Linked DNA regions of Homo sapiens. The protein of the gene in region 1 purifies or fractionates together with the protein of each later gene. This does not show direct contact. Each region holds a gene or a part of one and is shown in the gene's direction. Other genes may lie near its edges. The genes, in order: TAS2R31, MTMR4 and MAP1A.

Evidence for each region.
Region 2: the proteins of TAS2R31 (region 1) and MTMR4 purify together in Homo sapiens (affinity purification with mass spectrometry; one large-scale study listed by BioGRID and IntAct). This does not show direct contact.
Region 3: the proteins of TAS2R31 (region 1) and MAP1A purify together in Homo sapiens (affinity purification with mass spectrometry; one large-scale study listed by BioGRID and IntAct). This does not show direct contact.

The regions. Positions count from the first base shown.
Region 1 is NC_000012.12:11,029,739-11,032,823, reverse strand, and holds TAS2R31 (taste receptor type 2 member 31), read left to right. Parts: upstream 1-1,416; 5' UTR 1,417-1,488; coding exon 1,489-2,418; 3' UTR 2,419-2,437; downstream 2,438-3,085. UniProt on the Homo sapiens protein: Receptor that may play a role in the perception of bitterness and is gustducin-linked. May play a role in sensing the chemical composition of the gastrointestinal content.
Region 2 is NC_000017.11:58,508,069-58,511,726, reverse strand, and holds part of MTMR4 (phosphatidylinositol-3,5-bisphosphate 3-phosphatase MTMR4), read left to right. Parts: intron 1-215; coding exon 216-298; intron 299-2,885; coding exon 2,886-3,046; intron 3,047-3,162; coding exon 3,163-3,259; intron 3,260-3,452; coding exon 3,453-3,566; intron 3,567-3,658. UniProt on the Homo sapiens protein: Lipid phosphatase that specifically dephosphorylates the D-3 position of phosphatidylinositol 3-phosphate and phosphatidylinositol 3,5-bisphosphate, generating phosphatidylinositol and phosphatidylinositol 5-phosphate.
Region 3 is NC_000015.10:43,527,588-43,529,997, forward strand, and holds part of MAP1A (microtubule-associated protein 1A), read left to right. Parts: coding exon 1-1,921; intron 1,922-2,062; coding exon 2,063-2,283; intron 2,284-2,410. UniProt on the Homo sapiens protein: Structural protein involved in the filamentous cross-bridging between microtubules and other skeletal elements.

The DNA.
Region 1 (3,085 bases):
GTTCAGGGGCAAGGTAGTCAGTCTTCCTGTGATAGGATACTGCAGGATTATATATCAAAGGGTCTGGTACTGAGGAATTCTTATAAAATTGCTAAATATTTTTTATAATAATATTTAAACATTAGACTTGAGAGAAACTTTACCAAGTCCTAAGAATTAGAGATAATGTTTTTGATAAATAAATATTATTCATGGGCTGAAAACCCTGAGTGGGAAAATAGGACTAATTTCATCTGCACAGCCTCTTGGAAACTCATTTTTTATTTTGGAAATTACAAGAAAATAATTTGTTCCATTCATAAGTGGTGTGCACATGTGTATATTTGTGTGCATATTTATGAGTTTGTGAATAATGAAGTTATACGAAAGTGTTAGCAGCAACCAGATCTTATGGAGTAGTGGCCTGCCTGTGGTTCTCAAGAAAATCTGAGATGCCTTTGATAAAAGCAGTTAGGATTCTGTGTATTTAAATCTGTGATTTAAAAAAGTCCGCATTGGTGATGATCTTAGTTATGACCAAGCTCCCTTTGAGAATTTAGATATTTACTATATGATATATATATTGAGTTACAAAACTTCCCTAACAACTGAAGTCACTAAAGATAAATGATGGAGAGGTTACACAAGGAAAAATTGCAAACACTGAAAGTGAATATGTCCCTATTTGCGTACTAGCAAATGAGGATTCAGGTTTCACGTCAATTTCAGTGTGAATAATTCCAGCCTATAACAAGAACAGACAGTGAATGAATGAGTTAATTTGAGTTGTTTGAAAATAAGAATGTTTTCCATAAAGAGATCATTGAACTCATCAGTTAACATGCCATGGTTATTTCTGGCTTGACACTGGTCACAACAATTAAAAGTAAAAAGAATGTCACAGCACATTCACAAATCAGGTGCATATAGAATTTAAGGTCAGGATATTCAAGCAATCACACCCAGTTATATTACATTGAGAGATGAAGCGAGCTATACTTTCTGAATCGAGTGGGGACTTGGAGAACGTTTCTGTAGCTAGCAAGGGGATTGTAAAATGCACCAAACAGTGCACTGTAAAACCACAGCAATCAGCGCTCTGTAGCTAGCAAGAGGATTGTAAAATGCACCAATCGCTCTAAAATACACCAAGCAACAGGATCCTAAAAGTAGCCAATGGCAGGGAGGATTGAAAAAAGGGCACTCTGATAGGACAAAAAAAGGAAAATGGGAGGGGACAAATAAGGGAATAAAAGCTCATGGCTTCAGCCAGCAGCAGCAACCTGCCTGGGTCGCCTTCCTCCCGGTGGAAGCTTTGTCCTTTCTCTCTTCTCAATAAACCTTGCTGTTGCTCACTCTTTGGGTCCATGCCATCTTTAAGAGCAGCAACACTCACCGTGAAGGTCGGTGGCTCCATTTTTGAAGTCAGGGAGACCACGAACCCACCTGCAGGAACCAACTCCGGACACAACACCAGCATTAAAACAATTTTTTTTTGTCTGTTCAGACATGACAACTTTTATACCCATCATTTTTTCCAGTGTGGTAGTGGTTCTATTTGTTATTGGAAATTTTGCTAATGGCTTCATAGCATTGGTAAATTCCATTGAGCGGGTCAAGAGACAAAAGATCTCTTTTGCTGACCAGATTCTCACTGCTCTGGCGGTCTCCAGAGTTGGTTTGCTCTGGGTATTATTATTAAATTGGTATTCAACTGTGTTTAATCCAGCTTTTTATAGTGTAGAAGTAAGAACTACTGCTTATAATGTCTGGGCAGTAACCGGCCATTTCAGCAACTGGCTTGCTACTAGCCTCAGCATATTTTATTTGCTCAAGATTGCCAATTTCTCCAACCTTATTTTTCTTCACTTAAAGAGGAGAGTTAAGAGTGTCATTCTGGTGATGCTGTTGGGGCCTTTACTATTTTTGGCTTGTCAACTTTTTGTGATAAACATGAAAGAGATTGTACGGACAAAAGAATATGAAGGAAACTTGACTTGGAAGATCAAATTGAGGAGTGCAGTGTACCTTTCAGATGCGACTGTAACCACGCTAGGAAACTTAGTGCCCTTCACTCTGACCCTGCTATGTTTTTTGCTGTTAATCTGTTCTCTGTGTAAACATCTCAAGAAGATGCAGCTCCATGGTAAAGGATCTCAAGATCCCAGCACCAAGGTCCACATAAAAGCTTTGCAAACTGTGATCTTTTTCCTCTTGTTATGTGCCGTTTACTTTCTGTCCATAATGATATCAGTTTGGAGTTTTGGGAGTCTGGAAAACAAACCTGTCTTCATGTTCTGCAAAGCTATTAGATTCAGCTATCCTTCAATCCACCCATTCATCCTGATTTGGGGAAACAAGAAGCTAAAGCAGACTTTTCTTTCAGTTTTGCGGCAAGTGAGGTACTGGGTGAAAGGAGAGAAGCCTTCATCTCCATAGATTCATGAGAGGGGCATTGTGTGTCTTCTAGCAGAAAACAAACTGGTGGTGTATGAAACATTTTATATTTCTTACTGGTTTTTCTATACTGTATGTGTATGAATAATTTCCCAACGTATACCTAGAAAAGCCTTTGACCTAATATTAGTCTAGAAAAAAAAATATATATATGTGTGTGTTTATGTGTGTATGAAAACTTAAGAACATTGACAATAACATGCTCTTTTCTGTTTTTTTCATACAAACTGCCAAATTATACAAAATATGACAAAAATTTCTTAGAATTTTGAAGCCATGTATATTTCATTCATGTATTTTATATTTCATTTGTAGAATTTATGATGTCTATTTATAATTATTAAGAAGTAACAGCTTATCCCAGGATAAATATTGCTCTTTTCTATTGTTATTTGAACCACAGGAATACACCACATTGTGCTTAGAATTCATTGCTTGAACCTCGAATTTATTGGATGGTAAAGTCATTCAATTCTAAATCAATAATGAGGATGTATCTTTGGTGTTTTATTCCATTATGAATTTCTATTTTATGTTTAGTAAAAAGCAATGAGAATTATTGTTAGAAAAGAATGCACACAGTAGAATTTGAGTGAGAAGCATATGCAGAGTAAATTTAATGTATGTCTACCATAAGCGGTACTGAGGA
Region 2 (3,658 bases), on another chromosome or scaffold:
AATATGGGCTGAAAGCACCTGCTGTGCAACGTTATTGGGATCATTAATTGGGATCACATATGCAGAGGACTCCGTACAGTTACCAGGTGCTTAACAGACCCTCAGTAAATGTTGGTTTCCTTCCTGCTATTGATACATTAGTGCCTACGCTAGGGTGAGGGTGAGGAGTGGTACCCAGTGGGGAGTCTGAGCTTCAGTTTGCCCTTCCTCTACAGGTCCCCCTCCGGATGATTGACAGTGTGGAGAGCCGTGATATGTTCCAGTTGCACATTTCCTGCAAGGACTCCAAAGTGGTGAGGTGAGAACAACGGAGCCTCACTCAGGTCCCCTGGCCCTAGTCTTGTCCAGTTCTCTGTGCTGCAGGGTTTCTCTGGTGCAAGAGAGGAAAGATCCTGCCTCACTTTCCCCAGTTGGAAGAAAAGGTGAAGACCATGTTCTGGGTTGGGAGGTCAGTTTACTGACCCATAGGATCTTGACCTGAAAAAATGGGGGTAATGCCTAGTTCATGGAGTCATCGTAAGGATTAAGTGAGATAATGTGTATGTGTATGAAAGCACCGAGGACAATATCTGGCACAGAGCACTCATATTATTGTTGGTTTATTTATTTATTCATTTGATATACATGTATTGAGTACCCTACTCAATGCCAGCCTGTTTTAAGCCCTGGGGATACAGCAGGGAACAAATAGACAAAATTTTGCCGCCTCAGAGAGCTTACATTCCAATGAGGAGATACCAACCGTAAGTAATAAGTAAAATTTGTGAAATGATAGTAAGTGTAAAGGAAAAAAATAAAGCAGGGAAAGGGAATAAGGAGTGCTATGAGGGTGAAGATTGTAAAACAATCAGGCTGGGCACGGTGGTTCACGCCTGTAATACCAGCACTTCGGGTGGCCAAGGTGGGAAGATCCCTTCAGCTTAGGAGTTCAAGATCAGCCTGGGCAACATAGCGAGACCCCATCTCTACTAAAAATAGAAAAAATTAGCCAGGTGTGGTGATGCGTGGGGAGATCGCTTCAGCTTAGGAGTTCAAGATCAGCTTGGGCAACAGGACGAGACCCCATCTCTACTAAAAATATAAAAAATTAGCCAGGCGTGGTGATGCATGCCTGTAGTCCCAGCTACTCAAGAGGCTGAGATAGGAGGACCTCTTGAGCCTGAGAAGTCGAGGCTGCAGTGAGCTGTGATTACACCACTGCACTCCAGCCTGGATGACAGAGTGAGACCCTGTCTCAAAAAAACAAAAGTGATCAGAGAAGCTGCACCGAAAAGGTGGCAGTCGAGTCAAGACTTGAAGAAAGTGGCCATGTGGCTATTTGGTGGAAGAGTGTGCCAGAGACAGAGAACGGCAAGTGCAAAGGCCTTGAGGTGGGTGTGTGCCTGCATATTGGGAGACTGGCAGGGAGGCTGGTGTTGTTGGAGTAGAGCACGTGTGGGTGAGGGTAGTGGGTTATATGACCTGAGAACAAAGCCGGGTGTCAGACACTTTGGCTGTCATGAAGACTGGCTTTTACTTTGAGGGAACTGAGAAACCACTGGAGGATTTTGAGCAAAGGAGTGATGTGATCTGATTAATGTTTCATAGAATCACACTGGCTGCTATATTGAGACTAGATGAAAGAGAATGGGGGCAAGAGCAAAAGCAAAAACTGGGAGACTAGTTAGGAAGCTATTGCAGTTACCCAGATGAGAGATCATGGTGGCCTGTCTGAGGTGGTAGCAGCCAAAGCGGTGAGAAGCATTCAGATTCTGGGTGTATTTTGAAGGTGGAGATGAGAAGATTTGCTGACAGATTTGAAGTGAAAGAAAGAGGAATCTGGATGACTCCAAGGTTTATTAAAAGGATACCTACTTTAGAGCCTACCATGTGCTCAGGTCTGTGGGGCATTCAGAAGGAGCATTCACATTGCCCTTCCCTTCAAGGAGGCTAAACTCTAGCTGCTGGAAGAAGATTTAACATGTGGCAATATGCTATGGGAAAATGTGTTGCTTAGTACTCCAAGTAGGCCAGGCACAGTGGCACATACCTGTAATCCTAGTACTTTGGGAGGCCGAGGGAGGAGGATCGCTTGAGCCCAGGAGTTCAAGATCAGCCTGGACAACATAGAGAGACCCTGTCTCTATGAAGAATTTAAAAAGTTAGCCAGACGTGGTGGTGCACAATTATGGTCTCAGCTACTCAGGGGACTGATTTGTGAGGATTGCCTGAGCCCAGGAGGTCGAGGCTGCAGGGAGCTGTGATCGTGCCACTACACTCCAGCCTGGGTGACAGAGCAAGAGCAAGACCCTCTCTCAAAAAAAAAAAAAAAGGTATATATATATATTCCAAGCACATTAAGAATCAAGAGAGGAAGGAGTTTCTGGAATAGAGTAGGCTGGGAAGGCTTCAAGGAAGAGGTGAGACTGAAACTATCTTCAAAGCATCAGTAGGATGTGGCTAGGCAGAGAGGAGACATTATCAAGCAGAAGATAAACCAAGGAGATGGGAAGGATGTGAGCAGAACTTCCCGCCTGAAGCAGAAGGTTTGAGTTAGGGAGTCATGGGAGATAACACTGGTCCATTAGGGTAGGGACAAGGAGTGCAGACGTTCAGGGCCACATGGTAGCATTTAGATTTGATACGAGAAACAGTAGCGCCCCATTCGAGAGGATAAGTATGCCTCAAACACAGGAGTTCTTGGGAAGAGAATTATCACAAGAGACAACTTCTGTTGGGTGTTGGCCAGTGTCCCTCGTCCCCCCACCCTGGGTCCCCACTGCTTTACCTCTTGCTTTGCAGCCTTCTCTCCTCACAGCCTTCCTGTGGCTGTGTTTTTGGCCCTGATAGCCCCATGGCACAACTGCACTTTGCCTCACCTAGGCCTGTGGCTTCTTGCCTGGCAGGTGCCACTTCTCCACTTTTAAGCAGTGCCAAGAGTGGCTCTCACGGCTAAGCCGAGCCACAGCAAGACCTGCCAAGCCTGAAGACCTCTTTGCCTTTGCCTACCATGCCTGGTGCCTGGGGCTGACCGAGGAGGACCAGCACACTCACCTATGTCAGCCAGGTGAGGCCAGTCTATTTTCTTTGGGAGGCTGCTTCTTACCCCTTAGTTCTCATCCCTCCTCCACTCCTGCACATTGGTGCTCTGGGAAGCTAACCATCGTGGGGGCTCTGTTGCAGGTGAGCACATACGTTGTCGACAGGAGGCGGAGCTTGCAAGGATGGGCTTTGACCTGCAGAACGTCTGGAGAGTCTCACACATCAACAGCAACTACAAGTGAGAGGGTTGGGGACCAAAACACCTTCCACACCAAACTACTTCCGTGTTTGGATAAAGTGTGGTGGGCACAGCTTCTGAGTCTGAGAGGGAGGAAGGCTCATGGTTTCTCTTCCCACAAAGCCATCCCCAGGGATCCTGTCATCACATGTTTTAGACCCAGTGCAGTGACCCCCACCTGGTCTCTTCTCAGATTGTGCCCCAGTTACCCCCAGAAGCTGCTGGTTCCTGTGTGGATCACTGACAAAGAGCTGGAGAACGTGGCTTCCTTCCGCTCCTGGAAGCGGATTCCCGTGGTTGTGTATAGGTGAGGCAGTGGGGCTGGGAAGTAGGGAGGCCATTTCTTATGCAACAAGGAAAGAGTCAAAATTGGAGATTTTGGGTAACCTGGTTGACTGA
Region 3 (2,410 bases), on another chromosome or scaffold:
GCAGGACCCACTGTACCCCCAAGGCCAGAGCCAGGGCCAAGTATGGAGCCCAGCCTCACCCCACCTGCAGTTCCCCCCCGTGCTCCTATCCTGAGCAAAGGCCCAAGCCCCCCTCTTAATGGTAACATCCTGAGCTGCAGCCCAGATAGGAGGTCCCCATCCCCCAAGGAATCAGGCCGGAGTCACTGGGATGACAGCACTAGTGACTCAGAACTGGAGAAGGGGGCTCGGGAACAGCCAGAAAAAGAGGCCCAATCCCCAAGTCCTCCTCACCCCATTCCTATGGGGTCCCCCACATTATGGCCAGAAACTGAGGCACATGTTAGCCCTCCCTTGGACTCACACCTGGGGCCTGCCCGACCCAGTCTGGACTTCCCTGCTTCAGCCTTTGGCTTCTCCTCATTGCAGCCAGCTCCCCCACAGCTGCCCTCTCCAGCTGAACCCCGCTCGGCACCCTGTGGCTCCCTTGCCTTCTCTGGGGATCGAGCTCTGGCTCTGGCTCCAGGACCCCCCACCAGAACCCGGCATGATGAATACCTGGAAGTGACCAAGGCCCCCAGCCTGGATTCCTCACTGCCCCAGCTCCCATCACCCAGTTCTCCTGGGGCCCCTCTCCTCTCCAATCTGCCACGACCTGCCTCACCAGCCCTGTCTGAGGGCTCCTCCTCTGAGGCTACCACGCCTGTGATTTCAAGTGTGGCGGAGCGCTTCTCTCCAAGCCTTGAGGCTGCAGAACAGGAGTCTGGAGAGCTGGACCCAGGAATGGAACCAGCTGCCCACAGCCTCTGGGACCTCACTCCTCTGAGCCCAGCACCCCCAGCTTCACTGGACTTGGCCCTAGCTCCAGCTCCAAGCCTGCCTGGAGACATGGGTGATGGCATCCTGCCGTGCCACCTGGAGTGCTCAGAGGCAGCCACGGAGAAGCCAAGCCCCTTCCAGGTTCCCTCTGAGGATTGTGCAGCCAATGGCCCAACTGAAACCAGCCCTAACCCCCCAGGCCCTGCCCCAGCCAAGGCTGAAAATGAAGAGGCTGCGGCTTGCCCTGCCTGGGAACGTGGGGCCTGGCCTGAAGGAGCTGAGAGGAGCTCCCGGCCTGACACATTGCTCTCCCCTGAGCAGCCAGTGTGTCCTGCAGGGGGCTCCGGGGGCCCACCCAGCAGTGCCTCTCCTGAGGTCGAAGCTGGGCCCCAGGGATGTGCCACTGAGCCTCGGCCCCATCGTGGGGAGCTCTCCCCATCCTTCCTGAACCCACCTCTGCCCCCATCCATAGATGATAGGGACCTCTCAACTGAGGAAGTTCGGCTAGTAGGAAGAGGGGGGCGGCGCCGGGTAGGGGGGCCAGGGACCACTGGGGGCCCATGCCCTGTGACTGATGAGACACCCCCTACATCAGCCAGTGACTCAGGCTCCTCACAGTCAGATTCTGATGTCCCGCCAGAAACTGAGGAGTGTCCGTCCATCACAGCTGAGGCAGCCCTCGACTCAGATGAAGATGGAGACTTCCTACCTGTGGACAAAGCTGGGGGTGTCAGTGGTACTCACCACCCCAGGCCTGGCCATGACCCACCTCCTCTCCCACAGCCAGACCCCCGCCCATCCCCTCCCCGCCCTGATGTGTGCATGGCTGACCCCGAGGGGCTCAGCTCAGAGTCTGGGAGAGTAGAGAGGCTACGGGAGAAGGAAAAGGTTCAGGGGCGAGTAGGGCGCAGGGCCCCAGGCAAGGCCAAGCCAGCGTCCCCTGCACGGCGTCTGGATCTTCGGGGAAAACGCTCACCCACCCCTGGTAAAGGGCCTGCAGATCGAGCATCCCGGGCCCCACCTCGACCACGCAGCACCACAAGCCAGGTCACCCCAGCAGAGGAAAAGGATGGACACAGCCCCATGTCCAAAGGCCTAGTCAATGGACTCAAGGCAGGACCAAGTAAGTATATCATGAAACTTGGCAGAGAGTGTGGGTTAGGGCTGGGTGTGGGCTGGTCAGACTTCAGGAGTGGGACAGAGGGGAAGGTTGCCAAAAGGGTTCTACTTTTCCTCTACAATGAATCCTGGCTTGTCTCTACAGTGGCCTTGAGTTCCAAGGGCAGCTCTGGTGCCCCTGTATATGTGGATCTCGCCTACATCCCGAATCATTGCAGTGGCAAGACTGCTGACCTTGACTTCTTCCGTCGAGTGCGTGCATCCTACTATGTGGTCAGTGGGAATGACCCTGCCAATGGCGAGCCAAGCCGGGCTGTGCTGGATGCCCTGCTGGAGGGCAAGGCCCAGTGGGGGGAGAATCTTCAGGTGAGTAGCAAAGGACACCAAGGAAGTAGTCTGGTCAACGCTCACTCAGAGGCAGTAGTGGAACACAGTCCCTATTTATTAAAGGATGGGCCTTTTCTAAGGGCAGCAGAGCTGCTTCTGAGACCAT